Homo sapiens: one gene and its partners. The protein of the gene in region 3 purifies or fractionates together with the protein of the main gene of each other region. This does not show direct contact. Each region holds a gene or a part of one and is shown on either strand. Other genes may lie near its edges.

Region 1 (3,500 bases), on a different chromosome or scaffold from region 3:
ATAGTGTGGTGTGGAATGAAAACTCCTAGATTCATTAATACCTAACTTGATGCAAATTAAGGAGTTGTGGCTTGATTCCAGAGGAGGCTCTCATTAGGGTGGGACTGTCTTGTTTTTAAAACATGTCTTCCCGTAATAAATATGCTTTATTAGCTGACCTAGGATATGTGGCTATGAGCATACCTGTCCTTACCACATACCATGCAGCCTGCTGGTAAGGGTCCCAGCTATTCAAAATGCTTGTTGCTACAAATTGTATTGATTTTACAGTAACCTACCACATTTCAAAAAACTGCAGTCTGAGACAACCCAGGACCCTGGCTGGGTGTGGTGGTTGAGAGGAACAGGAAAAATAATTGCCCTAAAAGCTGGTTTTAGGGCTAATTAGGAGGTACAGGTTACCTGAGGGAAGGGATGATTAGGGAGAGAACCAAAGCAGTGAGGTGTGGAGCCTGCCACCATCTTAAGAAGTGAGTAGTGACACGTGGTGAGGAGAAAGACCCTTGCAGAACTTCTAGTCTTAGCAAACTAGGTTGAGAAATTCCTTTTCTTTTCTTTCTTTTTTTTTGAGGCAGAGTCTCACTGCGTTGCCCAGGCTGGAGTCCTGTGGCATGATTCTGACTCACTCCAACCTCCACCTCCCGGGTTCAAACAATTCTGTTGCCTCAGCCTCCTGAGTAGCTGGGATTACAGACGCCCACCACCATGCCTGGCTAATTTTTGTATTTTTAGTAGAGACGGGGTTTCACCTTGTTGGCCAGGCTGGTCTTGAACTGCTGACCTCAAGTGATCCACCCACCTCGGCCTCCCAAAGTGCTGGGATTACAGGTGTAAGCCACTGTGCCCAGCCAAAGTTCCTTTTCTTTTTGGAATCTGTTCCCTCCATTGCACCTGAAGGACTCTTGTAAAATGCCGTTCCAGGTCCTCCTCGTGGTCCTTCAGCTCAGTTCATGTCCCTGAGTGGCTTCACAGGGCCTCTGCACCAGGCCCCGAGTGTCTCTCTGGCCTCAGGCTCCTGCTGTCCTACATTTCTTTTGATCCCTTGCAGGGGACTCTGTGGGTCCTGGACCTTGTGTGGACTTTCATTTTCTTTTTTTCTTTTTTTTGAGACGGAGTCTGGCTCTGTCGCCAGGCTGGAGTGCAGTGGTACGATCTCGGCTCACTGCAATCTCTGTTTCCTGCTTCAAGTGATTCTCCTGCCTCAGCCTCCCCAGTAGTTGGGACTATAGGCGAGCACCACCACACCCAGCTAATTTTTGTATTTTTAGTGGAGACAGGGTTTCACCATGTTGGCCAGGATGGTCTCGATCTTCTGACCTTGTGATTTGTCCGCCTCAGCCTCCCAAAGTGCTGGGATTACAGGTGTGAGCCACCACACCCAGCCGTGTGGACTTTCTTATGTTTGGCATGTGCATCCGAAATGTCCCCTTGCCCAACTCTTCTGTAAGCCTGGTCCCCATCTAGGTATGATTCCTCCAGGAAGGGTTCCCTGCCACTCCTGCTCCCTCCCGGATTGTGGATTAGGTACCAAGCCTGAGTGCTTCCTTAGTACCTGCATGGTGTCATCTTTACCTGTCTGTCCACACAGCCAGACTAAGTTCTGAGAGGATCTGGCTGGCTTCTGCCCTGCACAGCACGTGTAGTAGACATCAAATATTTCTTAAGTGGATGATTCAAATCTGGGCTGCTAGTCAATTCTGACATCTCCCAAGTGTGGAGTTGAGTGGATGAGGCTGATGAGGAGGCTGTCTGTGAGGTGACATGGTGGCCTTTCTTTCTCTCTTGAAGGTGATTAGAATGACTGGTTTCATGAAGGGCCTCTACACAGACGCCGAGATGAAGTCTGATAATGTGAAGGTGGGTTTGAGTCGGGCTTCTCCTATTGACTCCTCGCCTTAACGGATGGGATTTTTTGTAGGCCTGGTAGTGTGGCTTGTGTCATTTCTCTGCTGCATGTGGTTGGAATACAAGGTCAGTGAATTCGTAAATTGATATATATACCCTTTCTCATTTCATTTTCTCATTGTGGCAACTGGATGTCATGCTAGTTTTATTCACTGAAAAATGGGATTAGTATTTCAAAGGTTAATGCTAGCCCATCAACTAAATTAAAGGCTTTAATGAATTGTTTTTGTTTTGTCAGTAAAAGGTCAGTATTTCTAGATTTGTTATATATCTAAAAACAGCTTTGTATGTAAACAGAAACTATCCTATGCCTGGTAAACATACAGAAGATAATGCACACTCTTCAAAGTATTGTAATATTTGTATTTTCAATGGAAATGTTTCAGGATAAAGATGCAAAAATTAGCTTCCTACAAAAGGCCATAGACGTGGTTGTAATGGTGTCGGGAGAGCCACTGTTGGCCAAACCAGCCCGAATCGTGGCGGGGCATGAGCCTGAAAGAACAAACGAGCTGCTCCAGATAATTGGAAAATGCTGTCTCAACAAGGTACTACTGCTGTCCTGGCATTTTGAACTTACTTAGTACTTGAGTAAAAAGTAGTCGGGGGTGAGGGACTCACATGTGCGGGCGGTTTAGGGAAGGAGTTTCAGTGGTGTCTGTCAAACACTGTGCTTTGAATCTGATCCCACCCCTTCTGGAGCCCCAGAGATACAGAAGGAGTAATTTAATACTGAATGATAAAACAAATAAGGGTATGTAATACGCAAGTTCTGCAAGCTTTCAGTAGAAAGTCGGGAACCCTGCAGGCACACTGTGCCTGGCTGGAGGCTGGAGGCTGCAGGCCCAGGCTTCCATGCCCTCTGGCTTTCTCCTTTCTGAGGCTCCCTTGAGGACAGGTGGCTGCTTCCAGCCAGGGCTGCAGTGGCTGCAGGAGCTGCTTTTCTTCTTCCCTGGGTCTTATGGGAGTCTCTGTTCTCTTCCTCCATCTCCAGCCTCTGGTGTCTGCTTGCCTGTTGCCCTTCCTCTCTCTCTTCCACCTTTTCTCTCTCTCTCGGTTGCTGTTTCAGTTGTACGGGGAGTAGATTTTTTCTTTCTTGAGCTTTTCACTGTGGGCTAGAAACTTGGGTGTCAAGGCCTCAGGCTTCTCTAGTTAGGTCCAGCCTGGGCCATGTTTGCCCAAATGTTGGAGAAGGTCTTTCCCCAGGGTCTTCCTTCTTTTGAGGGCCGAGTAGTGCCCTGTGGAGGAGCAGGTTGGACTTGTATTGAGAGTGTAATTAATACAGTTTTTCACATACCTAGTGGGTGGTTGGCTGGGGGCTAACCTTAAATGTGACCCAAATGGGAACAGGTAGGTTTCAGCCCCCTCAACAGCAGTGGGTAGTGGAGGTGCATAGTGGTATCAGGCCGACTCCTAGGAGGCCCCCCCAGTGCAGGTCCAGCATGCAAACTTAGAGACTTGGAAGCAGATCTTGCCAGTACACTGGCCTCTGTCCCTAGGCTCCCCAGCTCCCCTTCCCGGGTCCTTTATGTTTCTCATCTTTCTAAAAAGCACATCTGGCTCCTGTCTCCTCTGCTGAATCATCTCCGGCTTCC
Region 2 (3,500 bases), on a different chromosome or scaffold from region 3:
GCCTTAGTGGCATTGTGGCCTCATTCCTTGATACCTGTTTCTCCTCTTCGCTTGGCTCCCTGAAAGCTGACAAAGAGTACCAAAAAACAGTCTGAGCCACTTTGATCCCTAGCCATAGGGAAAGGAAGGGATGAAGAGAGGCCCTTGTTTCCAGACCTATCTATCATTCTGAAGGAGCAGATGGGCTTGGGAGCTGGGGAATCTGAACTACCACTCCTAATGCCTCTGGTCACATTGATGACTTTGTTCTTGCGCCTACACTTCAGAGTCCAGTGGTTACCGTGGTAATGGGAGTGTATGCCCCAGCCAAGGCATCGCAGACCTTCCCACCTTAGCAGAATATAGTTCTTCCTCTGCTTCTTATGGACTTGGAATTCCCCAACCTCACTAGTAGAGTGGCAATACCCAAACTCCTGTGATTGTTGGGAGAGTTCAGAGTTTCTGAACAAGCAGGTTTCCTTGAAGCCCTGCTTCCCTGGGGAATTGGATCTGAGGCTGCCTTGCCTCTGTGCCTCCACAGCTGGCGATGAAATGCATGAGACCAGAAGATGTGTCAGTGCTATACATCACTCAGGCCCAGGAAATGGAGAAGCAGGGCAAGTACCGTGAGGCTGAAAGGTGAGCCGTGGCCCCAGAGGAGGTGTAGAGGGAGATGAGATTTCAAGGCTGGGACGAGGGATGGGGTCTGAGGATGTGTACCCTCTGCCCAGAAGGCAGTGATAGCAGGGGTCGGGTCTAGGAGGCCCCAGATGTATCTCCTTCCCCAGGCTATATGTGACAGTACAAGAGCCTGATCTTGCCATCACCATGTACAAAAAGCACAAGTTGTATGATGACATGATCCGCCTGGTAGGGAAGCACCATCCAGATCTCCTCAGTGATACACACCTACATCTGGGCAAGGTGAGCCCTTCTCCTGGCTCTCCCTATCTCTTCCCCAACCAGGCTCCATCTCCCCATCTCTCCATCCTGACTCACCTTCCTGCAGGAGCTGGAGGCTGAAGGCCGACTACAGGAGGCTGAGTACCACTACCTCGAGGCCCAGGAATGGAAGGCAACAGTGAACATGTACCGGGCCAGTGGGCTTTGGGAAGAGGCCTACAGGGTAAGGAGTTCAGGCCACACTGAGGGATACATCCATCCTTCTTTCCCACGTTTTTCCTTTTTTTCAGAAAGGGTCTCACTCTGTCACCCAGGCTGGAGTGCAGTGGTGCAATTATGGCTCACTGCAGCCTTGACCTCCTGGGCTTAAGCACTCGATCCTCCCACCTCAACCTCCTGAGTAGCTGGGACTATAGGTGTGCACCACCACAGCTGGCTAATTTTTTAATTTTTTTGTAGAGACAAGTTTTCACCATGTTGCCCAAGCTGGTCTTGAACTCCTGGGCTCAAGCGATCCACCTGCCTTGGCCTCCCAAAGTGTTGGGATTACAGCTATGAGCCACCTTGCCCAGCCCTTCTTTCCCACTTTAAGTGACTAATTCACAATTGGTCAGAGCATCTTTGAAAATGTAGTGAAGATCAGAGTCTCTCTTGCCAGAACCATGTCCACATCTGTATACAGAAAATTTCACTTATAATTTTAAGGGTCTGTGGACCAGGTGAAGCCTATCCTTGGACCCTAAGTACTTTAACCTAAGTTAAGAAACCCTGAAATTTAGCCCTCTTCCTGTTAACTTTTTATTTTATTTTATTTTTTGAGATGGAGTTTCGCTCTGTCACCCAGGCTGAAGTGCAGTGGCACAGTCTTGGCTCACTGCAACCTCCACCTCCCGGGTTCAAGCAATTTTTCTGCCTCAGCCTCCCGAGTAGCTGGGATTACAGGCACTCACCACCGTGCCCAGCTAATTTTTGTATTTTTAGTAGAGATGGGGTTTCACTATGTTGGCCAGGCTGGTCTCGAACTCCTGACCTCAAGTTATCCTCTTGCCTCGGCCTCCCAAAATGCTGGGATTATAGGTATGAGCCACCACACCCAGCCTCTTCCTGTTCAATTTAGAACAGTTACTGGATCCTTGTCAAAGCCGAGGTCAGAGATGAGAAGGGAGAAGCTCTGTATTGCAGGATTATTGAGTGACTTTGCTTTACAGGTGGCCAGAACTCAAGGAGGGGCTAATGCCCACAAACACGTGGCCTATCTGTGGGCAAAGAGCCTGGGAGGAGAGGCTGCAGTTAGACTGCTTAATAAGCTGGGACTCCTGGAAGCTGCTGTTGACCACGCTGCAGACAATTGGTGAGGCCCCAAGCTTTCTCTCCACGGGCCCCATCCCAGCCAGAGCCACTATCTAGAGAAAGAAAATTGATGTATAACTGAAAGAAAGATCCTTGGAAGGACATGATAGAGTGGCATGAATAAATTAACTGCTTCTATTCCCTAGGGGCTCAGAACAGTGTTTAACCTTTGGCTGTTCTAAGAAGGGTGGAGAGGAAACAGATTGTAAAGCTAGGACTGCAGACTGCACTAAACCAATAACTTACTCCTGGGTAATGGAAGTGTGATTCTGTCAAATGCAGAGTGAACTGTTTTTTTTTTTGAGACAGAGTCTCACTCCGTCGCCAGGCTGGAGTGCAGTGGCACGATATCAGCTCACTGCAACCTCCACCTCCTGGTTCAAATGATTCTCCTGCCTCAGCCTCCCGAGTAGCTGGGACTACAGGCATGCACCACCACGCCCATCTAATTTTTGTATTTTTAGTAGGGATGGGGTTTCACCATGTTGGCCAGGATGGTCTTGATCTCTTGACCTCGTGATCTGCCCACCTTGGCCTCCCAAAGTGCTGAGATTACAGGCGTGAGCCACTGCGCCTGGCCGAACTTTTCTTTTTTTTTGGAAGCACCAGAGTCCGTGAAGCATTTTATTTGTAAATATGTATTACATCTCTAGAAAAAGAATCCCAGGATTTTCCCTCCTATATGTTGCTGTCTTGCTTCTTCATGGTCCATGATGCCAACTGAGGTTGTCAGTACAATAAAACCAAACTGGCAGGATGGGAGCAGATTATTCTGCCATTTTTCTTTTTTGTTTTTTTTCTGAGACAGAGTCTCGCTCTGTTGCCCAGGCTGGAGTGCAGTGGTGCAACCTTGGCTCACTGCAAGCTCCGCCTCCCAGGTTCAAGCCATTCTCCTGCCTCAGCCTCCTGAGTAGCTGGGACTACAGGTGCCCGCCACCACGCCCGGCTAATTTTTTTGTACTTTTTTAGTAGAGACAGGGTTTCACCCTGTTAGCCAGGCTGGTCTCAATCTTCTGACCTTGTGATCCACCTGCCTTGGCCTCCCAAAGTGCTGGGATTACAGGCGTGAGCCACCGCGCCCGGCATATTCTGCCATTTTTCTAGATCTCTGATTTGCACATCAAATCTGGGGCTGATCACTCTACACTTGTTTAGCCTGCCTGTGAGGTTCACAGCAATTTTCCTAGCTGTGATCATCAATTATTTCAAAATCGCCAATTTACCATACTTCAGCATCACAATTAGAAACCAGACGATGACTTTGGAGC
Region 3 (3,500 bases):
CTGATGGACATGGACTAGCTGAGGCTACACAGTCATCCAAACCTGGTAGTGTTATGCTGAGACTTCCAGGCCAGGAGGATCATTCTTCTCAAAACCCCTTAATCATGAGGAGGCGTGTTCGTTCTTTTATCTCTCCCATTCCCAGTAAGAGACAGTCACAAGATGTAAAGAACAGTAGCACTGAAGATAAAGGTCGCCTCCTTCACTCATCAAAAGAAGGCGCTGATAAAGCATTCAATTCCTATGCCCATCTTTCTCACAGTCAGGATATCAAGTCTATCCCTAAGAGAGATTCCTCCAAGGACCTTCCAAGTCCAGATAGTAGAAACTGCCCTGCTGTTACCCTCACAAGCCCTGCTAAGACCAAAATACTGCCCCCACGGAAAGGACGGGGATTGAAATTGGAAGCTATAGTTCAGAAGATTACATCCCCAAATATTAGGAGGAGCGCATCTTCGAACAGTGCGGAGGCTGGGGGAGACACGGTTACGCTTGATGATATACTGTCTTTGAAGAGTGGTCCTCCTGAAGGTGGGAGTGTTGCTGTTCAGGATGCTGACATAGAGAAGAGAAAAGGTGAGGTGGCTTCGGACCTAGTCAGTCCAGCAAACCAGGAGTTGCACGTAGAGAAACCTCTTCCAAGGTCTTCAGAAGAGTGGCGTGGCAGCGTGGATGACAAAGTGAAGACAGAGACACATGCAGAAACAGTTACTGCCGGAAAGGAACCCCCTGGTGCCATGACATCCACAACCTCACAGAAGCCTGGTAGTAACCAAGGGAGACCAGATGGTTCCCTGGGTGGAACAGCACCTTTAATCTTTCCAGACTCAAAGAATGTACCTCCAGTGGGCATATTGGCCCCTGAGGCAAACCCCAAGGCTGAAGAGAAGGAGAACGATACAGTGACGATTTCACCGAAGCAAGAGGGTTTCCCTCCAAAGGGATATTTCCCATCAGGAAAGAAGAAGGGGAGACCCATTGGTAGTGTGAATAAGCAAAAGAAACAGCAGCAGCCACCGCCTCCACCCCCTCAGCCCCCACAGATACCAGAAGGTTCTGCAGATGGAGAGCCAAAGCCAAAAAAACAGAGGCAAAGGAGGGAGAGAAGGAAGCCTGGGGCCCAGCCGAGGAAGCGAAAAACCAAACAAGCAGTTCCCATTGTGGAACCCCAAGAACCTGAGATCAAACTAAAATATGCCACCCAGCCACTGGATAAAACTGATGCCAAGAACAAGTCTTTTTACCCTTACATCCATGTAGTAAATAAGTGTGAACTTGGAGCCGTTTGTACAATCATCAATGCTGAGGAAGAAGAACAGACCAAATTAGTGAGGGGCAGGAAGGGTCAGAGGTCACTGACCCCTCCACCTAGCAGCACTGAAAGCAAGGCGCTCCCGGCCTCGTCCTTTATGCTGCAGGGACCTGTTGTGACAGAGTCTTCGGTTATGGGGCACCTGGTTTGCTGTCTGTGTGGCAAGTGGGCCAGTTACCGGAACATGGGTGACCTCTTTGGACCTTTTTATCCCCAAGATTATGCAGCCACTCTCCCGAAGAATCCACCTCCTAAGAGGGCCACAGAAATGCAGAGCAAAGTTAAGGTACGGCACAAAAGTGCTTCTAATGGCTCCAAGACGGACACTGAGGAGGAGGAAGAGCAGCAGCAGCAGCAGAAGGAGCAGAGAAGCCTGGCCGCACACCCCAGGTTTAAGCGGCGCCACCGCTCGGAAGACTGTGGTGGAGGCCCTCGGTCCCTGTCCAGGGGGCTCCCTTGTAAAAAAGCAGCCACTGAGGGCAGCAGTGAAAAGACTGTTTTGGACTCGAAGCCCTCCGTGCCCACCACTTCAGAAGGTGGCCCTGAGCTGGAGTTACAAATCCCTGAACTACCTCTTGACAGCAATGAATTTTGGGTCCATGAGGGTTGTATTCTCTGGGCCAATGGAATCTACCTGGTTTGTGGCAGGCTCTATGGCCTGCAGGAAGCGCTGGAAATAGCCAGAGAGATGGTGAGTATGAGAAATCTCTTACCAGCTTGGGATTTTTATTTCATTTGGTTCCTTTTCTTGCATGTTTTTGTTCTTACATGTCACATGATTATTCCTCCAAATTAAAGTGCCTATGCCCATGTGATGGACAGAAAATGAAATAGGTAATTTGGAAGATTTGTATAGACTTCTAAAATCGTTTTTCATTTTTTGAAATGTATAATGCTTATGAAGCATATTATTATATTTCAAGTTTCTTGGGCCACATCTTTTCTAACGCACACTTTCCAGTTAGGATATTTATTCTTTGGATCTGTTTCATAACTTATCCTGGGGCAGATCATCAACATCATCATCTTCATTTCTTTCTCTCCTCTATTGAATGTTCTGTTTCCTGAATCCCATTTCTTCCTCATTCTTAAAGTGAGCCTTCATTTAAGGGCGTGCATCATCCTTTAGTAGTTTTGTGAGAAAGGGTGTGTGGGAGTGTAAAAATGTTGAGATCCTATATATCTGAGCATGACTTTATCCTAGCCTCATGCTTAATTGAGAGTTGGCTAGGTGTGGAATTCTAGATTGGAAGTGATTTTTCTCTCACTGTCTTGCAGTCGTTCTTCCTGGTTTGTCCACTAGCTTCCAGTGCTGCAGTTGAGAAGACTGCCATTCTAATTTTTCATCCCTTGATGCATGTTCTGTTTTTCTTCTGGAAAGTTTGAGGATCTTCTCCTTTTCCCTAGGGTCTTGAGATGTCAAAATGATAGGTCTTGACTAGGTCATTTCATGGTTGTGTTGGCTACTCTATGAGATCTTATGTACGCTGATGTCTTTCAGTTCAGGCAATTTGTCATGTGGTAGTTCTTTGAAAATTTCCTTCCCTCTATTTTCTCTGCTCTCTTTATAATTCCTGTTAATATAAGGCATTTTACCTCCTGGATTGATCCGCTGTTTTTATCTTTTCTCCTCTGTTTTATGTTTTATCTCATTATCTTTTTGTTCTGATTTCTCTATGCTTTCTTCAGCTTTATCATCTAATCTTTTTTGTATGTGGGTTTTGTTTTGGTTTTGTTTTGTTTTGTTTTGTTTTGTTGTCACTCAGGCTGGAATGCAGTGGTGCGATCACAGCTTACTGCATTCTCGAACTCTGGGGCTCCCTGGTACCTGGGACTAAAGGTGTGTGCCACCATGCCCAGCTAATATTTATATTTTTTGCAGAAACAAGGTCTCACTGTGTTGCCCAGAGTGGTCTCAAACTGCTGGACTCAAGCAATCCTTCCACTTCGGTCTTCTAAAGTACCAGGATTATAGGCATGTGCCACAAGCCACAGTGCCCAGCCTTCTAGCCTTTTATTTACTTATTTTTTTTCTTGATATTTTGAAGAGCTTTTTTTTTCTCTGAATGTACTGACTTTTAAAGAATAATCAGAGCCTAGTTGATGGCTATAATCGTTTCTCTTGCTTTTTGAATACATTATAACGTATTTTTTGTTTTTGTTTTTGTTTCAGTTTCATGCCCTTACC
Region 4 (4,247 bases), on a different chromosome or scaffold from region 3:
TTACTTAATTTCTCTGTTAGAATAACTCAGTCTCATATTGCCACCTGGAGTATCAGCCCATTATTAAATGGTCCATCTGTGCCTAGAAATTACCATTCTCACTACAATTCTGTCCGTGTAAAAAGAGCAAGGCTAAGGAACCAAATTTTGTCATTTGATATTACAGGTGTTACTGTTAATTGAGTGCACATTCTTGAAATTTCACATATAACTAGCAGATCTGCAAAGTTGTTATAGTCAGTGTATTTTTTTAGAGTATGAATTAACAAGTTTAAACATTAAGAGGTAAGCCTGTCTACTTTCCAGTAGCCTCAAAGGATACATTTTCTTTACGATTGTTTCAGAACACTTCATGAAACAAATGTCAAACTTGTCAGGGCTGTCACTAAGAAAATGATCCATGTAGCCAGGGTCTTCTTTCATTGGGAAACAAACAGATGTCTTATCTCAGCAGAGAGAAAAAAAAAAACCCTCCTGTATATCAGAAGAAATTTTTGCTTACCTATAATATCCAGTAGTAAAGAAATGCTTTGGTAAAAAGCTTCCTTTGCAATTTTATTTATTATGCAGTCATTTATCAATTATATTTTATTTGCTGTCTGAGTTACTTTAATGATTTTTATTAATCTGGAACTGCGTATAAATTCTTACAAAAATTGACCTGCAATGTGAAAAACATAAATTAGCATTTCCAAAAAGACTTCCCTAGAGCTTTATTAGATCAAATTTTAATGTTATTTATGATAAAATCTATTACTGTTATTTTGATAATGTTATAGCAATTTTAATATTATACTCTAGCAATTAGAGTGGAATGCCTTTTTCACCCCTTCATAATGCTTTTCTGCACCTAGGTTACAGCTATCCTTCTAAAAGGAAGAAAGAGATTGGCTCTTATTTGTTATATAAGTGACTTAACAGCATAAAAGGCAAGATGTTTTAAGACAAATCCTCAGCACAAAGAAAGGTGTGAAACAGTTATGTACCTGTCCTGAACAGCAGGCAGTGTTAGAAGGCATGCATTTATAAACTGTACTTTATTTCTAAGAAAAATTCAACAACAAAAAGACAAACATTATATTAAGAATGTTACTTAACTGGCATATCTATATATATCTTATCCATATATTTAAAACATATTCAAATTAATGGAAGTTGCAAATTTTTATTTCATTTAACCATGTTCCAATAGCTTATATCCATAGTTAAATATGAAAATAAAGTATATAAGTACCTCCTAGTCCTTGGGGTTATTAAGTCTTTACATTTGTGTTTTGACTTAGAGCAGCAAGGTTGCTAGAGAAAACTAGATAGCCAAGCATGTTAAACCGGGAAGTCATACGGTGGAGAAACTTAGTAGACTGTCCGTGTGATAAAGGCTCCATCTTTCTTTTATAAATTAAAGGGTATGAGCTTGATAATGGCTGTTTTGGCTCATGTTGCTTCAAACATTTTTGCTTATTTTTATTTTCACTGTTGTTATATAGTAAGTTAAGATTGCTAGAAGTGTGAGTACTAGCAATCTTAATTTACGATAGTTAAGAACAATATTGTGCTTTTCCAAATTATGTATTAATTCAGGCATACCTTTTATTCGTTCATTATTCCACTGTTTCACATAGTTCAGAAAATATTGATTGGACTACAACTATATACTAAGTATGTCCTGTTAGATGGTAGGAATGTATAAGATACAGAAGATAAAACCTTCCTTTGAGGAACAGATGGACAAATTCAGTGCTACATATCAAAAATTTCTTGCCATCCGTACCTGCTGATTTAACACTTTCTAACAGTGTCTCTCCTGAAGAAGACAGGGGAAAGTGTAGAGTAAGATTTACTTTTTATTATAATGTAGTTAAAATGTAATCTCTAGGCTGGGCGCAGTGGCTCACGCCTGTAATCCCGGCACTTTGGGAGGCTGAGGCGGGGCAGATCACGAGGTCAGGAGATCGAGACCATCCTGGCTAACACGGTGAAACCCCGTCTCTACTAAAAATACAAAAAATTAGCCGGGCGTGGTGGTGGGTGCCTGTCCCAGCTACTCGGGAGGCTGAGGCAGGAGAATGGCGTGAACCTGGGAGGCGGAGCTTGCAGTGAGCAGAGATCGCGCCACTGCACTCCAGCCTGGGCGAAAGAGTCCGTCTCAAAAAAAAAAAAAAAGAAATGTCATCTGTAGGAACTTTTTTCTAAAAGTGGAAAACACATGTTCATTAATAAATTTTCAAGAATCAAACTTAATGTATCTATTCACTGGAGATAAAATAAGGAAAAAATGAAATGACAAACAGTGGCTATCATACTTGGAAAAATATATCAAAGTTACATTGCCAAAATGATATTCAAAACCCCATTCCTGGTGTTCTACATATCTATAATGATTCAGATTGGTTGATAATATTGATAATTTCTCTACTTTCCCAGTGTTAACAAAGTCTAAATCACAGATTCCGTTGAGTTTAGAGAAACAAAGTATATAAAAAAGCTTTTTTCACCCGCCTTAATCATTACTGGCAAGTATGTAGTTTGTCATAGAAAACAAATATGCATACCTTGGTTTGCTTTTACTTTATAAAGTCAATTCACAAAGTAGAGTTCAACAATTATTTAATTCAATGATTTAATTTGGTTTCATCAGATACAGAGATAGAGTGGTATGTTTGATGATATTGATGATTATTACTGTTGTCTAGAAATACTTAAATTGATGTTTATGCTTTAATTAACTCAGAAGAGTACCTTTATGTCAGTTAATAAAAATAAATAATCTTAAATGATAAATCAGAAATATTAGGAAAGCAAGACTGTTTTGTACTTGGGTGTGTTGAAAGAACATGTATGATGAGATGGGTTACAAATTGTAAGATGAAATATTTTTCCAGACTCTCATTGCTTATACTTTGAAGGTTACCATTTAATACTGAACACAAGATGCACTTCATTTCTATGAAAGCAGACATTATGATGTCATTTCATCTATTCACCATGTTCCACAGGAACCTGCTATGAATTATGAGGCCACCACTTAGAATTGAAACTGTAGAAGATTGTAAGCATTCTAAGCCGACATGCACATGCTTCCTATTTTAGACCTCACTGATCTTCAGATAACATATGGTGGTACAAGTAATTGGAAAATTGGCACACCTGTCAAGAAAGTATACTAGATGGGGCAAAAAAATGCCATGCTGGAGCACATGAAGTGTCTTAGCAATTAAATTTATTGTTTTTTGTCAAGCAGTGAAGTAAAAATATCTAGCTCATCCCCTGCAAAGAACACTTTTCAGTGGCAGGTGTTTCCAAAGTAATTTTTAGGGCATTGTTAAAATTGGTTGCTTTTAAAAACATACAGAAAATTTTAATGTGTTCTATAAAACAGCACCTATTGCAAATATTTAAATGTTACATAATTTTACCATTTGTGTTTAGGATTATTAGAATCACAGTAGTTCATAGTTCTACAGATGCAGTTAAAATCTGTCAAGTATAGCTGATAAATGCTCTAAAGTTTATATTTTAATGTTTTCTAAAATTTATTTCACAGGAAGATGAAAATGAAGCTGAAAGAAAAAATATATCTCAGGAGCTCAACATGGAACAGAAAAATCCAAAGAAATAAAAGATTTTCTGTAGTGTTTTTGAAAAGTTTGCAGCTTATGTAATAGCAGATAAAATTTCTAATTGTAAAATGTTAAATTGTAAAATCTAATTTGCAAAATGTTCTCAATAAAGTCATTCAAAATGAAATAGGAGCTTGTATTTGGAATTCGTATATTTTAGAGTAATTTCGACTTTTTTATTCAAAAGCTGGACCTTTAAAAGTTTTTAAAAGGAGAAAAATTCTTAACTCAAATTTGAGAACAGAGACAGAATGTTATTTTTTTTGTAACCTAACTGTTAACACATTTAAATGACCTAAAAAAAAAACCTCTGAAAGTCTTTTTTCTTCTTACTAGACTCTGTGTTCTTCTTTAAGGGCCTTAACATAATTTTGATTATCAATATAAAGAAAAACCAACATAGTTCAAAAATGAACAGGGAATGCTTGCACATGAAAATGGTTAAAACCAGTCAATGCCACAAGGAGAAATACTGTTTCCTGATTTCATCTATTTATATATTACACGATACTCTAGGACTGCAGGGAAAGACTAAAAAGAAATGATAATTTGACGGTCTCTGGCAGAAGTAATGCCATGATTTATAATTTATAAAACATTTACTAAGGACCTGCTGTGTGCAAGGTC
Region 5 (3,500 bases), on a different chromosome or scaffold from region 3:
GATACCATGTCACATCAGTCAGAATGGCTATTACTAAAAAGTCAAAAAAATAACAGATGCTGGTGAGGCTGCAGATAAAACAGAACATTTATACACTGTTGGAGGGAATGTAAATTAGTACAGCTACCATGAAAAGCAGTCTGGAGATTTCTCAAAGAACTTAAAACAGAACTACCATTTGACCCAGCAATCTCATTACTGGATATATACCCAAAGGAAAAGAAATCATTCCACCAAAAAGACATATGCACTCATATGCTCACTGCAGCACTATTCACAATAGCAAAGACATGGAATCAATCTAGGTGCCCATCAATGGTGAAATGGATAAAGAAAATGTGGTACATATATACCATGGAATACTACGCAGCCATGAAAAAGAACAAAATCATGTGCTCCGCAGCAACATGGATACAGTTGGACGTCATTATCCTAAGTGAATTAATGCAGGAACAAAAAACCAAATACTGTGTGTTTTCACTTACAAGTGGGAGCTGAACTCTGGGTACACGTGGACATAAAGATGGGAACAACAGACAATGGGGACTACTAGAGTAGGGAGAGCAAGAACTGAAAAACTACCTATTGGGTACTATGCTCACTACCTGAGTGATGGGATCATTCATATCCCAAAGTTTAGCATCACACAATACACCCACGTAATAAATCTGCACAGGTACCTCCTGAATCTAAAATAAAAGTTAAAATTCTTTTTTAAAATAATAAAGTTTATATAAAACCAAAAAAAAAAAACAGACAGAAAAGAAAGTACTGCTGCGTTCCTTCACTCCTTCTAGTGGTTATTTTTAACATGATTAGGGTAAGTCAGCCTATGACACTACCACTATAGCCAACAAATGAGCCATTAAGAGATGTTGTTATCAGTCTCCTGATGCTTGACACTCTGTGTCTCATCAATTGGTGTGTTTTATAAACAGTAGTAGATTATAAACAGTAGTCGTGACCTTGGTTTTCTGCAGTTTAAAAGGTTCCAAACCACAAATATCTCATATTTTGAACATTCACATTTACTACACAGTAAATTTTAAAACTGCTTAAAGAAAATGCACAGGCTGAGAAAAAATAATTCATGAGAAATATAACTTGAGGCTAAGGAGGTAAAAAAAAATGAAAAAGTTATTCTCTACACCTTCCTATTCACATCACTGTTCAGTTATCATCACTCTGGAGTATACATCTAATCTCTCTTTTCGTATTTTAAAATCCCTAACGGCAGAAACCTATCTTGCACATTTCTACTTCCCTTATAACAATGGTTTCCAAGTGGACCCATAGGGCTGGGTACATATGAAACATGTAAGGAGCTTCCTAGCCACTGTCACCAACACCACCACCCCACCACATACATACATGCACACATACACACACACACACACACACACACACACACACACACACAATTTCCAAGGTTGGGATTGAGAATCTACATTTTACTTAAATTAACAGATAATATAATGTAATAACTCGGGTGATTTTGATATACAGACAGGTTAGAAAATTACCTACTACCTAATACTGTGCCTTGCAAATACTGGGTATCCAGCAGATATTTGATCAATGCACAATCACCACAAAGTGTACTGTTTCACATAAAAAGAGCTGTTTTGAAACCTTATGCTATAATACTTACACTGAAATAAAGCTATTCAGCTTCAAGCAATAAAAATCTCATACATTTTTTAGAAAAATAAAAAGGTTTAAGAAAAATATTCAAGTAGGATTCTAGCTACTTGCCGACCTCTACATTGTATAACATGAAATGACAAATATTAACAAAACATTCCTTTTTGTATTCTACCACCTTATATGACCAGTATATAATTAGACAACATTCAAACATCAAAGTAGAGAAATAAATATATCCAATTATAGTGAAAAAAATTAAAAGAGATTTACTAAACAAGTAAGATATTTTTGAGAAAAGTAAAAATGATTATTAAAGACTTGTTTTTATTTTCTCCAAAAAAAAAGAAAAAAATGAATTACAAGAAATTCTGTATCTTTTAACATTGTTTGCTTTATGAAAATCAGTATAAAGATAAATACCTGAGAAAAGAACAATAATCATAAGAACCATAACAGATTATATGCAATCACTAAGTCTAGAGCACATACACGAACGTTCCTTTCAGTTGTTAATAACACATACATCAACAGAGATAAATTATGAAATAAATTTTTAAGACTATTAAAGGACAAAGCTTAAGGTGACCAAAACAGATACTAGTTAACATCAGTCTACTCTAATGGCTCACATGTGCATAACAATTTGTGATATGTTTCATTAGGTCACTCTATACCAGTTTAACACACTGATGTTGTTTAAAAGGTTAATCTGGAAATAAAAGTATGGTATTATGGAATTAGTATATCAATAACTCACCTGCTCTGGGAAGTGGTTTATATAACTCTAAGTACTGCTCTCCATGAAGAACCTATGTTAGGGTAAACAAAATTTTATTAGCAAACTTTCTTGCTCCACAGGTTCTGCCTATGGATACTGTTACTCGCAAGTGACATTTTACCATCCACAGGCTCACATTTCTCTCCAAGTTATCTATCTCTGTTTGGCTTCTTCTTAATCATGTGATTGAAAAATAATCAATCCCCCAATCTCAAGACAGTCAGCTCTTCTGGAGCAGAGAAGATATATTTGTGTTCTTTCTTGGCGTTCATAAAGCCTTGTTGACTGTTAATTACATATTATTTGCCAAGAGACAATAAACTAGGCTGTATTCCCAGAACTTATAACAGTGCCTGGAACATATTGGGCATCCAATAAATATTCATTGAATAAGAATGAACAAATGCGCCAGTGCTAGTAATTTCAGGTCACATATACCAAATACAAACGACACAACTAAAACACAAAGAAAAACCTTACAACCATGTTCAAAATGAAAGCACTGTCAATGTGAATATCCCTTTCTTATAATACTTTGTAAATTATCTACAAAGAGTAGATACTAAGGACACTGTGTAACTTAATAGCCACTTAACCTCAATGTATCAAACAAAGAATGCACCAAGGTATATAGGAAAACAACAGGACAGGAAAACCAAAACTTGAAGCATACACTCAAATGATCCCACTTTCACTGCAGAGGGCCAGTTTACCAGTCTTCCTCAGAACCCAAAAGGATTTTAAAAAAAAAAAAAAAGGAAGAAGAAGAAGGGGAGGTGGTTGATGAGAAGACAAATGAAGGTCAGCTTTACTGTGTCATACGGCTTGAAAAAGTCAAGGTTAAGAAGACTAGGATTCAAGTTCCAAGATGCATGAACACCATTTACGATTTCCAATTGTTAGGGGGAATTTTGAAACATTTGTTTTAATTTTTTGCATTTACATTGTTCAGAGTATATAGTAACTAACCATGGGAGTGTGAATGAAACAGCAAACTGCCCAGCACATATTTCTTGTCTTCCTCCCAACTTCATGAAACACTCTAATAAAATAAGTGGCCATCAACTCAGAGCAG
Region 6 (3,500 bases), on a different chromosome or scaffold from region 3:
GTGCACCTGTAATCCCAGATACTCAGGAGGCTGAGGCAGGAGAATTGCTTGAACCCAGGAGGTGGAGGTTGCAGTGAGCTGAGAGCACGCTATTGTACTTCAGCCTGGGTGACAGAGTGAGCCTCCGTCTCAAAATAATACTACTACTAATAATTACATGTTATTTTATGTAAATCCCATTTAGAAATTGGGAACCAGAACTAGAAACCATTTTCTCAAACCCAAAAGGAAATTATGCGGGAATCTGGTGGCTATTTTGTACTGTTTTCCACTTGTACCTTTATTTCTGTGGTGCATGTAGTCTGGCTAGAGAAATCCATTTCATTGGTTATCTCCATGTTTCTTTCTCTCCTCAGATGCAGACAGACATGCTGAACTATCTGGAAGTCCACTGAAAAGCAAAAGCACTAGGAAGCCTTTGGCATGTATCATTGGGTATTTAGGTGGGTATTTTCTAATAGAGGAAAAACTCAAAGAGCAATTTCTGAATAGTATAGATATTTGGCAATTCTAAATGGACATACCTAAACTAATTCAGGCCCTTCAAATAGCCGAAATTGGATACCTTTATATAGTCAGTTTATTTTGTTTCAGAAACTTTTATTACCAGCACACACAACACACACACATACACACACAGATTTATGATATATGTCTACTTTTTCCAAAAAGCCATCGAATAAAAATGTAATATATATTCATGGAAATAAATACAGATTAAGCAAAAAAGAAAATGAAAAGCATTCAGTTAGTACTTAGGATGAATAGTCTTAATATTCTTCTTCAGATCCCTTCCCTGTTTCTAACTCACCTCACCTCTTTTTAAATAGAAGATTTATTTACTTATTAAAATGAGATCAAACTGGTTTATAACTTATCTTAAAATAATTATAGGTTTTAATTTTTTATTTTATTTGTTTTTTGTAGAGACAGGGTCTCGCTTTGTTGCCCAGGCTGGTCTCAAACTCCTGGCCTCAAGCGATCTTCCTGCCTTGACTTCCCAAAGTGCTGGGATTACAGATGTGAGCCACTGCTTCAAGCCTTAAATATTTATAGTTTTGGTGTGCTTTAGGTGACTTTGAAGGGGAGGCATTTGTATTGCTTTCTTATTTTTATCATGCCATCTGACTTGGAAATCTCCAAAGATGATAGCTCCATTTTTATGTTGAAATATCACAATTAAGAATAGTATACAAAATTACTATGCAATAATCTCTTTGTTTAAACAAAGTTTTAAGAGAAATAACTTACAAAATAATGGTTTTTCACATACCTAGAAGCAAGAATGGCATGTTTTTGTGCTTCTCATAGTTCTTTTTCAGTAAAGTGAAATATGTACTCAGAGTTGCTTTGACAGAAAGATTTATAATTATGAAATGTTCAGACTGCAGACATCAACTCTTTTAAAAATCAAAGTGTAGTCTTGAATTTGGTATATTATCTAGTCCTTACCCAAAAGAATGTTCCAGGATTCAGAGGCTCAAAGCTTCTTCTTTGATGTTACTGTACTACCTTATTCCTTGCTTTATTTATTTATTTATTTATTTATTTTATTTATTTATTTTTTTTGAGACGGAATCTCACTCTTCTGTCCAAGCTGGAGTGCAGTGGCGCAATCTCGGCTCACTGCAAGCTCCGCCTCCCAGGTTCACGCCATTCTCCTGCCTCAGCCTCCTGAGTAGGTGGGACTACAGGCATCCGCCACCACGTCCAGCTAATTTTTGTATTTTTAGTAGAGACGGGGTTTCACCTTGTTAGCCAGGAGGGTCTCAATCTCCTGACCTCATGATCCGCCCACCTCGGCCTCCCAGAGTGCTGGGATTACAGGCATGAGCCACTGCGTCCGGCCATTTCTTGCTTTATTTCTCAGGGGTTAAAGAGTTGTTTTGATATCCCCTGAAAATGTCACATGGTTATTGTACACATGACCTACGTAATGGTGGTAATGTCCTTGAAGAGTGCGGTCTGTATTCCCTTGCAGAACTGTCTCCAGATGCCCCTTCCCACCTTGCATGGGAAAGTTTCTGATCACAAAAAATAGAATAGGCCGGGCATGGTGGCTCATGCCTGTAATCCCAGTACTTTGAGAGGCAGGCGGATTGCTTGAGTCCAGGAGTTTGAGCCTGGGTAACATAGCAAAACCCTGTCTCTACCAAAAATACAAATATTAGGCAGGTGTGGTGGTGCGTGCCTGTGGTCCCAACTACTCAGGAGACTGAGGTGGGAGGATTGACCGCTTGAGCCCAGGAGGCAGAGGTTGCAGTGAGCCAAGATTGTGCCACCACACTCCAGTCCAAGTGACCAATTGAGACCCTGTCTCAAAAAAAAAAAAAAAAAAAAAAAGAAAAGAAAAGAAAAAAAGAATATAACATTATTAGCCTTTCCAAGAATAATTGTGTGCTCCTACTGTGGGCAAATTGGTCTCTATATCTACCAGATAGGCCCAGACTGTGCTGTTCTTACCAGCTGAACCACATCCCTACACAATATATTTATGAGTATTTATATGTTGAAAACACTGTACTAAGTGATTTGGGGAACACCAAGATGGGTAAGACCTTGCCCTCAAAATTCTTAGTGTAGTGGGGAAAGCAAGCAGGTAAGAACAATAAAACAAAGGATTAGATCCTGTAAAATAATTACAGGTAATATGCGTTGGGCACTTGGAGGAAGGACTGTTCTTTTTCTTTTTCTTTTTCTTTTTTTTTTTTTTTGAGATAGAGTCTCACTCTGTCACCCAGGCTGGAATACAATGTCTCCATCTTGGCTCACTGCAACCTCCACTTCCCAGGCTCAGGTGATCCTCCCACTTAAGCCTCCTGAATGGCTGGGACTACAGGTGTGCACCACCACACTTGGCTAATTTTTAAAAATTTTTGTAGAGACAGGGTTTCACCATGTTGCTCAGGCTGGTCTCGAACTCCTGGACTCATGCAGTCTGCCCACCTTGGCCTCCCAAAGTACTGGGATTACGGATGTGAGCCACTGCACCTGGCCAATGAGGGAATTTTTTCTAATGAGCGTTAGGGCAGCCTACCTGAAGAAAGTAATAGTTAATTTCAGCCTTAAAAGATATTTAGGATTCGAATAGGTAGAAAAATAGGAAAAGCGTATTCTCTTCCCTCATAAGGCCAAGACAACCAGATGAACAAAGGCTTCAGTGAGTCCAAGGACTTGAAAGCAGCTTGTTTGGTCTAGATGGAGCATAGACTGTGGAGGTTAAATGAAATGCAAGGCTGGCAAACTTGTCATGTCATGTTGGAGAAAAAAAAATCACTTTTTTCGGTGGTAGTATTTAAGCCATTTCTAAATTTTGGCAAGTGTGGGACTTTGACCAGAGCTGTAGTAATTCTAACAATTCCAATGGCTTTTCCTAAATTCCAGTAAATAAGGGTGATATCTCAGCCCTTACCTTCAGTGAAAGGGTGAGAAGGCAGGGTGGCTTGTGTGTAGTTGGCCAGCTGCATGATGACTCTGAGAATCAGTGAGCTGCTAAGCTT
Region 7 (3,500 bases), on a different chromosome or scaffold from region 3:
ATGCAGATCTCACTATGACTACCAAGGACTTCTTGTAGAATTTTGGTATCTCTTTATAGTGCATAAAGCTTAATACTGTTTTATTTTGTGAGTAATTATCCAGAAAGTGTAAGTATCCACTGTCTCTTAACTTTTTGTCATTTATGATTGTTCTTTTAACCTTCCCAATAGTAAACTATGTAACAAAAGAAAAAAAATCTATGTAATCATTAAAAAGAAGGACTTTAATATGTATCTGGAAATATTTTAGTGAAATAAATACGGAGAAAGTGTTTACTTCCTATTTTACTTTTTCTCCCCAATTTTTTCTTCCATCTATAGGTGTGACAGATCAATTGTCAATAAATCAAGGCAGACTGCACTGGACATTGCTGTATTTTGGGGTTATAAGCATATAGCTAATTTACTAGCTACTGCTAAAGGTGGGAAGAAGCCTTGGTTCCTAACGAATGAAGTGGAAGAATGTGAAAATTATTTTAGCAAAACACTACTGGACCGGAAAAGTGAAAAGAGAAATAATTCTGACTGGCTGCTAGCTAAAGAAAGCCATCCAGCCACAGTTTTTATTCTTTTCTCAGATTTAAATCCCTTGGTTACTCTAGGTGGCAATAAAGAAAGTTTCCAACAGCCAGAAGTTAGGCTTTGTCAGCTGAACTACACAGATATAAAGGATTATTTGGCCCAGCCTGAGAAGATCACCTTGATTTTTCTTGGAGTAGAACTTGAAATAAAAGACAAACTACTTAATTATGCTGGTGAAGTCCCGAGAGAGGAGGAAGATGGATTGGTTGCCTGGTTTGCTCTAGGTATAGATCCTATTGCTGCTGAAGAATTCAAGCAAAGACATGAAAATTGTTACTTTCTTCATCCTCCTATGCCAGCCCTTCTGCAATTGAAAGAAAAAGAAGCTGGTAAGAAATGAATGCTGCTTTTCATTGGTAAAATCTGGTTTTTAGACTTGAGTTGGAGTTGTATGTATTTGCACTTTCCAGGGGCACTCTTTTTCCAGTAAGCAGTGAAATTAGACTGTCTTCATCAGAAACTTCTTAAAGTTCTCACCCTAGGGGACTACTCTCCTGGGCAGTTAGTAGTTCTAATCAGCCCAGACTGATTTCCTGAGAATTAACCCTGGTGCATGATGATCTCATTTGATTCTTCATTGAATAATTCTTAGTTCCTGCTACACGTAGAACATGATGGCAAAGACTTTGACTGTTTTGTTTTGTATTCTGTTGATGGGGCTTTTTATGGCATGGTAAGAAATTGGGGTTTGATTCTAAAGCCATTTAAATGTAACCTAACCTGTGTTTAAAATATTTTTTTAAAAAAGACACTGCACACTGGCTGCATCATAGAGCATAAATTGTACACATGTAAGTAAGTAAGTGTGAAAGTTGGGAGTCTTGTTAAGAGGGAATTGAGTATTACAGGTGCCCAAGTAAGAGATTGCAATGGCTTGAGTTAGAATGGAGGCAGTGGAGATGGAGACAAAGGGAGAATCTGAGGTATTCTCGAGGTAGAAGGGATAGGGCTTGATCTGTAGGTTGAGACCCTTATAAGTGAGAGATGGTGGTAATATGGCATGAATTAAGGTACTGATAGTAGAAATGGAGGAAAGAGGGTATATGCAAGATAAAGTTTGGAGAGAAAATCACTGGTCTTTGCTATTGAATTGGATATGGGATATATAATAATGAAGGAAAAGATTAAGAATGACTGCTAGGCTAGAGACTTTAATAATTTGGTATATAGTGATACCATTTCTCAATAATATAGGATGATGGTTAGAGCAAGGAAAGCAGGACAGACTTGGATTAAAAAAATCAAGAGTTTACTTTTGGGCATACTAAGTTTTAGAAATGGACATTACAATCAGATGTCTGAACTGGAAATACCCATATGGCAGTCATCAACACACAGATACTTAAATCCCAAAAAACTACTGAGATTACTTGGAGAGTTGAGAGGAAGCAAGAAAAACTCAGAATAAGACCTGAATCCCCCTAAATTTAAAGGTAAGCTGCAAGCAGGAGAGCCATCAAAGGAGTTGGAAACAGTGTGGCCATGAGGTAGGAAGAGAGCAAGAGGCCTCAGGGAAACCAAGACAGCAGAGTATTTCCAGGAGGGAGTGGTCAAATGTATTGAATGCTGTTATGAACTTGAGTAAGATGAAGGCAAAGTGGTTTTTTTGTTTTGTTTTGTTTTTTAAAGCATCTTTGTCTTTGGTAATATGAAGCTATTGATGAACTTGACAAGAGAAACGTCAGTGGAGTGAAACGAACAGAAACCAGATTATGGTAGACTGATGAGTTACTGGGAAGTTAGGAATAGGTCACTTGTCAGTGACCACCTTCCCTTAGGTGATAGAGGTCCTTCCAGAGACTGCTTAAATATCTCCTCCTCAAAGTCTGGTGTGGTATGTTTTATTCTCCACACCTGTGGAGAAATCATCAAACTTTTTTAAGAAAATTTATTTTCTTTAGACATATATATATATATATATATATATCATTTTAAGATCAAAAAGATCTGATAAATGAGCTAGTTGCTTGCTTTTTTCCCTTGTAGGAAAACTGAGGCCTTTTAACTCACTTGCTCTATAAGTTTACACAGTTACTTAACTTTTCTGTGACTCAGTTTACTCCTAAAGAAAATGATAATAATAGTATCTATCTTCTTTAGGGTTGCTCTAAACATTAAATAATCTATATAAAATTCCTTGCATGGTGCTTGGCACATTGTAAGTACTCAATAAATGTTAGCTTTTCTTATTGTGATGATTCTGAAATAATGTAAATACCCTAGTGTAAGTTACATATTACAAGGTTACGTAGCAGGCAAAAACGTAATGTTGTCTATTCATTACAACTGTTTTATTTATTTTTCCCAGTTTAAACGATGTTAGAATTTTTGTTATTATTTTGTTCATTTCAAAAATCTGTAGACCAAATAATCTATTTTAGGGAGGGTAACTTTGTCAAGCATTTAACATATAGCATTTCTAGTCTTATTGCCTCAACTGTAATATTTCTGGCCAGGCCATATTAACTTTTTTTGAACTACCAGAGTAAAACCTATAGCTAAAGTGTATATATTTTAAGATTTATCCTATTAGGCATTTTTTGGTAAACAAAGTTAACCATGAATGTAGTAAATGCAGTGTGTTTTATACTGTGTACATGCAGTCTCCAGTTGAAAACAGGTTGTGTTCCACATGGCTTGGACCATCAATGGCATAGTCACCAAGAGAGTGGTGATAGCCTCCTACAGTTTCCTAGTAATATTTCCTTTAGAGTACAAATCTCACTTAAGAACTGACTTTGTGGTATATTTTTATTAAAATCACTATTGTAAAATCACTGTTTGTAAACTTACTCTACACTAGAATCATGAATACCCCAAATTTTAAAATCACCTACAGTAAAAGCCTGATCTAATATAGGATGTAAGATAGATGTCAGTATGTCTATCTTATATGAAAGTTATATTTTATTCAAACA

The links.
Region 1: the proteins of TCF20 (region 3) and TRAF3IP1 purify together in Homo sapiens (affinity purification with mass spectrometry, with the first as the bait; one large-scale study listed by BioGRID). This does not show direct contact.
Region 2: the proteins of TCF20 (region 3) and IFT172 purify together in Homo sapiens (affinity purification with mass spectrometry, with the first as the bait; one large-scale study listed by BioGRID). This does not show direct contact.
Region 4: the proteins of TCF20 (region 3) and PHF14 purify together in Homo sapiens (affinity purification with mass spectrometry; one large-scale study listed by BioGRID and IntAct). This does not show direct contact.
Region 5: the proteins of TCF20 (region 3) and HSD17B4 purify together in Homo sapiens (affinity purification with mass spectrometry, with the first as the bait; one large-scale study listed by BioGRID). This does not show direct contact.
Region 6: the proteins of TCF20 (region 3) and MTA3 purify together in Homo sapiens (affinity purification with mass spectrometry, with the first as the bait; one large-scale study listed by BioGRID). This does not show direct contact.
Region 7: the proteins of TCF20 (region 3) and NUDT12 purify together in Homo sapiens (affinity purification with mass spectrometry, with the first as the bait; one large-scale study listed by BioGRID). This does not show direct contact.

What each region holds. Positions count from the first base shown.
Region 1 is NC_000002.12:238,323,518-238,327,017, forward strand, and holds part of TRAF3IP1 (TRAF3-interacting protein 1), read left to right. Parts: intron 1-1,788; coding exon 1,789-1,857; intron 1,858-2,291; coding exon 2,292-2,453; intron 2,454-3,500.
Region 2 is NC_000002.12:27,455,244-27,458,743, reverse strand, and holds part of IFT172 (intraflagellar transport protein 172 homolog), read left to right. Parts: intron 1-520; coding exon 521-618; intron 619-767; coding exon 768-903; intron 904-988; coding exon 989-1,105; intron 1,106-2,090; coding exon 2,091-2,233; intron 2,234-3,500. UniProt on the Homo sapiens protein: Required for the maintenance and formation of cilia. Plays an indirect role in hedgehog (Hh) signaling, cilia being required for all activity of the hedgehog pathway.
Region 3 is NC_000022.11:42,208,154-42,211,653, reverse strand, and holds part of TCF20 (transcription factor 20), read left to right. Parts: coding exon 1-2,003; intron 2,004-3,500. UniProt on the Homo sapiens protein: Transcriptional activator that binds to the regulatory region of MMP3 and thereby controls stromelysin expression. It stimulates the activity of various transcriptional activators such as JUN, SP1, PAX6 and ETS1, suggesting a function as a coactivator.
Region 4 is NC_000007.14:11,165,872-11,170,118, forward strand, and holds the end of PHF14 (PHD finger protein 14), read left to right. Parts: intron 1-3,544; coding exon 3,545-3,619; 3' UTR 3,620-3,747; downstream 3,748-4,247. UniProt on the Homo sapiens protein: Histone-binding protein. Binds preferentially to unmodified histone H3 but can also bind to a lesser extent to histone H3 trimethylated at 'Lys-9' (H3K9me3) as well as to histone H3 monomethylated at 'Lys-27' (H3K27ac) and trimethylated at 'Lys-27' (H3K27me3).
Region 5 is NC_000005.10:119,500,997-119,504,496, reverse strand, and holds part of HSD17B4 (peroxisomal multifunctional enzyme type 2), read right to left. Parts: intron 2,457-3,500; coding exon 2,405-2,456; intron 1-2,404. UniProt on the Homo sapiens protein: Bifunctional enzyme acting on the peroxisomal fatty acid beta-oxidation pathway.
Region 6 is NC_000002.12:42,718,632-42,722,131, forward strand, and holds part of MTA3 (metastasis-associated protein MTA3), read left to right. Parts: intron 1-356; coding exon 357-443; intron 444-3,500. UniProt on the Homo sapiens protein: Acts as a component of the histone deacetylase NuRD complex which participates in the remodeling of chromatin.
Region 7 is NC_000005.10:103,556,290-103,559,789, reverse strand, and holds part of NUDT12 (NAD-capped RNA hydrolase NUDT12), read left to right. Parts: intron 1-321; coding exon 322-911; intron 912-3,500. UniProt on the Homo sapiens protein: mRNA decapping enzyme that specifically removes the nicotinamide adenine dinucleotide (NAD) cap from a subset of mRNAs by hydrolyzing the diphosphate linkage to produce nicotinamide mononucleotide (NMN) and 5' monophosphate mRNA.